2 separate regions of the Homo sapiens genome follow, and region 2 is linked to region 1. A link means that fine-mapping ties the variant in region 1 to the plasma level of a protein whose gene starts in the linked region. Region 1 holds a variant in brackets. A gene starts in the other region. All regions are shown on one strand. Distances are from middle to middle.

The links. PIP is the posterior inclusion probability: the model's chance that the variant is causal. Protein levels are from antibody-based Olink assays in UK Biobank. Linkage for the fine-mapping came from a reference panel and not from the study's own genotypes, which makes the PIPs less certain.
Region 2: it holds the start of CD5L, and the variant in region 1 is fine-mapped to the plasma level of the CD5L protein (UK Biobank, PIP 0.93).

The regions. Positions count from the first base shown.
Region 1 is chr1:23,614,092-23,617,007 of GRCh38, reverse strand. No RefSeq gene overlaps it. Among named protein-coding and RNA genes, the nearest start is that of MDS2, 12 kb to the left of the region's middle. The variant A/G (reference allele first, on the strand shown) is at 1,763.
Region 2 is chr1:157,840,322-157,843,237 of GRCh38, reverse strand. CD5L (CD5 molecule like) reads left to right here and starts at 1,430. Exons shown (of 6, transcript NM_005894.3): 1 at 1,430-1,564. The coding sequence starts at 1,537.

The sequences.
Region 1 (2,916 bases):
CAGCCTGGCCAGCATGGTGAAACCCTGACTCTACTAAAAATACAAAAATTAGCCAGGTGTGGTGGTGAGTGCCTATAATCCCAGCTACTTGGGAGGCTGAGGCAGGAGAATTGCTTGAACCCGGGAGGCGGAGGCTGTAGTGAGCCAAGATCGCACCACCACACTCCAGCATGGGTGACAGAGTGAGACTCTGTCTCAAACAAAAAAAAAAAAAAAAAAAGAATGGGCCTTCTCTCCCATGGCAGATAGGCATTCTCCAGTCCCAGGAAAGATGCTCAAATGTTTACATCCTACCAGCTCTCATTTCAGGAGAGAGCCAAGCTTCGCCACTGGCTCCATCGAAAGTTCCAGGGAGGGCTCTGATTGGCTCAGCTTGTATCACATGCCCAGGCCCAAACCAATCACTGTATATCAAGGAAAATGGGACACTGTAATTGGCCTACTTGCCTTCCCAGTGGGTGGGGCCCTGTGAGGGATACCTGACCAGAGCACATGGACAGGAAATGAGAAGATTGGAAAAATATGCCGGGCAGACAAAAGAGGTTCCAGCCCTGCCTCAGTTTACAATGAGGCTTGAGGGCAGAACCCTGGGGAACACTAATATTCAAGGGTTGGCTGGAACTTGGGAAGGAGACTGAGGGGTATGAGAGAGGTTCTGGGAGAAGCAGCGTCTTCGAGGGAGGAGAGAAGTTCTACAAGGAGGTAATGGTCAAAGGCAAATTCTGGAAGGGGTCACTCACACTCACTGTTCTGGGCTCCAACCACCCACCCTCACCTGACATGGAAAGGCTCTGGGACCCGGTTTCACCAACACTGATTATGCCACCTCCCCCAGCAGAGTCTGTTTGCTTATCTGTGAAATGGGGGCAATGACAGAACACCCACCCCATAGGGTGACAGAGAAGGCTGAGTGAGAGACACTGAGAAATGCTTACCCCGGTGCAATGTAGCACCACTCAGGCACCATTCATTCATTTATTCATTTATTCATTCATTCATTCACTCACTCATTGAACAATCTTTAACTGAGTGCCTCCTTTGTATCAGTCCCTATGCCAAACACAGTGGATGTAAAGAAGACACAGGGATCTGAGGATGCGTGGGATACAGACCTGATGGTGGATGGTTATGATACAGGGTGATAAGTGCTGAAGGGACTGGGTTTTGCAAGCCCAGAGAAATTTGGTCCACATGGAGGCCCCAGGGCAGCCCCCTGAGGAGACAACATTTGAGATGACATTTCATGAGCACTCACCATGGGTCAGGCACTGGGTGTGCCAAGCGTTTCCACGTTGTTCCTGTGACGTCGGGGAGGGGATGGGGCCCAGAGAGGGTGGGAGGCTTACTCAGGGTCACCGTGCTCGTAAGTGGGGACACCAGGGCTGGCCCACCTCCACTGGATGAGTTTGCCAGATGGGGAGAGAGGAGAGACAGGATGTCAGGCAGAGGGCAAAAGACAATGTGACCCAATCCTCTAGGATGGGGAGAGGAAGCTGGGATTCCCATAGGGAAAGCCCATATCTGTAGAAGGGTGGGCCAGAGGCAGTAGGACAAGGGCAAGGTGAGAGCCATGACCTCCAGCAAGTCCTGTGCCTCCTGGAACCTCCGTCTCCTCCTCTATGAACTCAGGATAAGGACATCTATTATATTATCTTCATCTCCATTTTACAGGTGAGAAACAGATTAGATCAAGGCTATCCAGTTGCAGAGCCCACGAGCTGAGCCATGCACTGTGGTTCTGCTGGAGCAGATGAGATGTATG[A/G]GTTCCCTGCAAACCCTCCTGTTTGTCTCAAGAGTGGGAGCCATGAAAAGCACCCCAAGAGTAGGGGGGAGACTTCATGGGAGCAGCCCTCAGAGAGACCCAGAAGATGCTCCTGTGCTCCTACCCAGAAATTCAGTCTCTTAAGGACCTTAGAGACAGTTTCATTCATGCATTAGTGAGGAGCGATGCCTACAACTTGCAAATGGAGAAACTGAGTTCAGAAAGGAGGGAGTGACTTGTCCAAGGTCACACCACAAGCTGGTGGTAGAAATCCCTCCAGAATGCAGGCATCCCAACATCTGGTTTTGTCCATTTCTCCATTCCCCTGACTCCTCACAAATGACTTGTCCCCTTGTCCCCAGCATGGTGATCTCTACCGGTCCTGAGCATTTAATATGGGCCAGACTCTTCGCCTTACTCTGACTCTCCAAGCCACCCTATGAAGTGGTATCCAAAGGCAACTTACTTACTTAAATACATGGCTTATTGATAGTATGTTACAAAACACATAAAATAATAATTGATGTATCTGCATTTCATGACCACCCTATAAATTGCACAATTCCTATTTTACAGATGAGAAAATTAAGGCTCAGAGATGGGAAAAGACTGTCTCAGGGACACACAGCGAGCAAGCAACAGGGTGAGGATTAGTATCCAGGCATCTCTGACTCCAAAGCAGGGGTGTCTTGTCCACACCCCAAGCTGCTGTCAGGGAACAGATGGGAGAGCCTGCAAGGGGAGGTGAGAGGAAGGTGCTGAGCCCCAGTCATGAGCGAGGTGACAGTTATTGTAGTGGCTAAACAGGTGGCCCCTGAGATCAGGCTGCCTGGGCTGGAATCCTGGTCTACCACTCCTTAGCACTGTGCGTTCAGGCAAACCATTGGTCCGCTCTGAGCCTTGACTTCCTTATCTGTAAAATGGGCGTGGTAATAATATGCCACCCTCATTAGGTTCCTGGAAGGGTTAAATGAGTGTGTAGCCCATGGTACATGCAATGGAAGTGCTGCCTCTTATTTGTGTGGCATTCTGCAGTGACTGTCTCGTGTACTCTCAATAGTGCTTATAACTCTTACGGGTTCTGGAGCTAGCCACCTGGCCTCTGCTACCACTTCCTAGCAGGGCGGCAGAGCTTAGAGGGAGATTTAAGGTGA
Region 2 (2,916 bases), 130 Mb before region 1:
TTCCTTGAATAAGTAATGCTGTTTCACTTGTCTGCATATGCATAGCAAAATCTTTTCCTATTCTGATTCTCCACTTAACTCATCCTAAACCCCTGCTCAAGTATCATCATTGCTGTGAAGTCTTCTCTGATTAGCTCCAAACATAGTAACCATTTCCTCCAAGGTTTCATTTCTTTTTCTTATTTTAGAGATGTGATCTCACTCTGTCACTCAGGCTGAGGTTCAGTGGCCTGATCATAGTTCACTGCAGCCTCAAACTCCTGGGCTCAAGCTATCCTCCCAGTTCGGCCTCCCAAAGTGCTGGGATTACAGATATGAGCCACCTCGCCTGGCCTCCAAAGTTTGTTATACTTTTCTCTCTTAACAGTGGTTTCCACATGTTATTGCAATTACTAGACCATATATTTTTACAGTGCAAAACTATCCCTTGTTCCTTCATGTACTGCCTCCACCCATCACATTGCCTGGCATTCATGAGTGCTAAAAACTTTTCATTGAATACAATACTAAGTAAATGAAGAAATGTGGGATTAAAAATGAATGCCTACAATGAACCAAGCTTTCTGCTGAGTTACCTGAATATTACAAAGAAGCAAAAATTATTACTGTAGAGGAACAATTACCCTGCTTGGAATGCAGAGATTATGTCAGCATACAAAATTGATTGCTTGATCAATCTGGAGTAGAATAGCTCATGAAGCATAGCTATACTTAATAATATAGCAAAGCAGAGGGGCCTGAGAGGGTCTTACTGCTTAATCTCTGTCCATCATGTCTTAGACCTACAGACAACTTGAGTTCAATGATTATGATGCCCCTCACCTCAGGGATCTGTTTCCATCCAGCTTCCAAAGATGGGCATACACCAGCACAAGCATAGAAAAATAACAAATCTGTATATTGGACCCTCTGCTTAGCAGTGAGAAAGCAGGTTTGAAGACAATAAAGCCAGGCCTGTATGTGGAGATTGGCACCATGACCCTGGATTATGTTTTATGGGATATGCCTCCAAGGGCAACTCTGCATTTATCCCATGGCCTCTGGCTTCCAAATTTTCTAGGCACTTCCCTCTGGGGTAAAGGAATCAAAATTGGCTTATTTCCCTTGCAAACCATCCTTGGCGACTAAGTACTGCCTTGTCTTCTACTGAGAGATGGCCATATTTTTGGCACCTGCCTTTCCTTGTGGGAGGTGTTTCCTCTGTTTACATAGCAAAGGGGCTGTAGGAGAGACAGACGGAGCTGGACTTACAGCAGAACCAAGTCATGATAGCCTGTTTCTATTTTGTTTTCAGCATTTTTCCGCCAGTTCTGGCCACCTCCTTTCCTCTGGAACATGCTGATTTCAGCAAGTCCAGCTCTGTCAGCTCTGCCCCCCGAGTCTATTGGTTTCTGATCATCTGATAATGCTTTGCCTGCACTCAGGACCTGTCTTTGTCCCTCCTCTTAACATACTTGCAGCTAAAACTAAATATTGCTGCTTGGGGACCTCCTTCTAGCCTTAAATTTCAGCTCATCACCTTCACCTGCCTTGGTCATGGCTCTGCTATTCTCCTTGATCCTTGGTGAGTATCTCTGCACCTGTTGGTTTAGGCTTCAGAGTTTTCTGGCACTTTGATTAGGAGAACTTTCTCCCCGCCAACCTGGAACAGATTTAGATGTTTTTCAAGGATGAGCTTCTTCCTCCTTTTTACATTTGGTAACTATTCTAATCCTTAAAAAGCCGCTTAATCCATACACATTTGTAATTCACTTTAACAGATTTTTTTCTATTTTCTTATATTTGTAATGACAGAGTCATGATAGTTTATCCCATTTCTCTTTTTACATAAGTGTTCCTAAATGTACTATTAGTAAGAAGACAAATGAATGGGCACCGGGCAGCAGCAAGTAGAGCCAGGAAAGGAAGTAGAACTGCAAGACAATCACCTTTCATTGATCATATTGTCTGGTTTCCTCTGAAAAGTGTTTCATATAATGTTTTTCTAGTTTTCTTCAGTTTCTCATTGCTTAGAGTAATCTAGAGATTAACCTAGTTAATCTGGTGATTGTGGAGCCAAGGAGACCTGGATTTCAATCCTGCCGTTTTGATTTCTTAGCGGTGTGAATTCGTAGGTTACCATACCTCTCTGAAATTTTGCTCTCTCATCTATGAAGTGAGGATAATATTATGTTCCTCAGAGGTTTTTAGGAGTATTTTTTTTTATAAGATAACTAATATAAAGCATCTAACAATGCCTGGTAAATCCCTATGCTAATCAATCACATCCACTTTTATGTCTTGATGATCTAGTACATCACCAAAGCCCACACAATCCTCTCAACTGGACACTTTTGTGTTCAATGTAAGGTACTGACCACATCTTAAACATCCATGCATCCCCCACATCACTCAACGGCTAGTCCTGCCCCTCATGGATATACTACTGGGTCTTCCAGGCTCATGTGCACTTCCACCTGCTTCATGAAGCCTTTCTGGCCTGTGCCTTCTGCAGTTACCCACCCTACTGCAGAGCTTCCAAGTCACTTACTGGCTATATCACGTTTGCACCTGCATATCAGGCTTGCCATGCTCACTTTCCTTCACATGTACACATGTTGGGTTGGGGTTATGCAATGATTCCCATATGTATAATATAACCTTGAGTTTTGGATAGTTGCAGAAAAGGCCTCATTGAGCCTGAGAGTGGCCACATTCTGAAGATTAAGGGAATGAGGGTAATGAGAGGTTATTTGGAAACCAAGAAAAGAAAATATTCCAGGATAAACCACTGAACTACTTGAATCTGCCTGAAAAACTGTAGGCTGGAGGTCCAAAGATATTTGCACCTTCTGAAAAATCCTATAAGATGGGGGTGGTGGGTGTTTTGCAGTTGAAAATGCATAGGCCTCAGGGACTCCTGGAGGTTACAGGGCC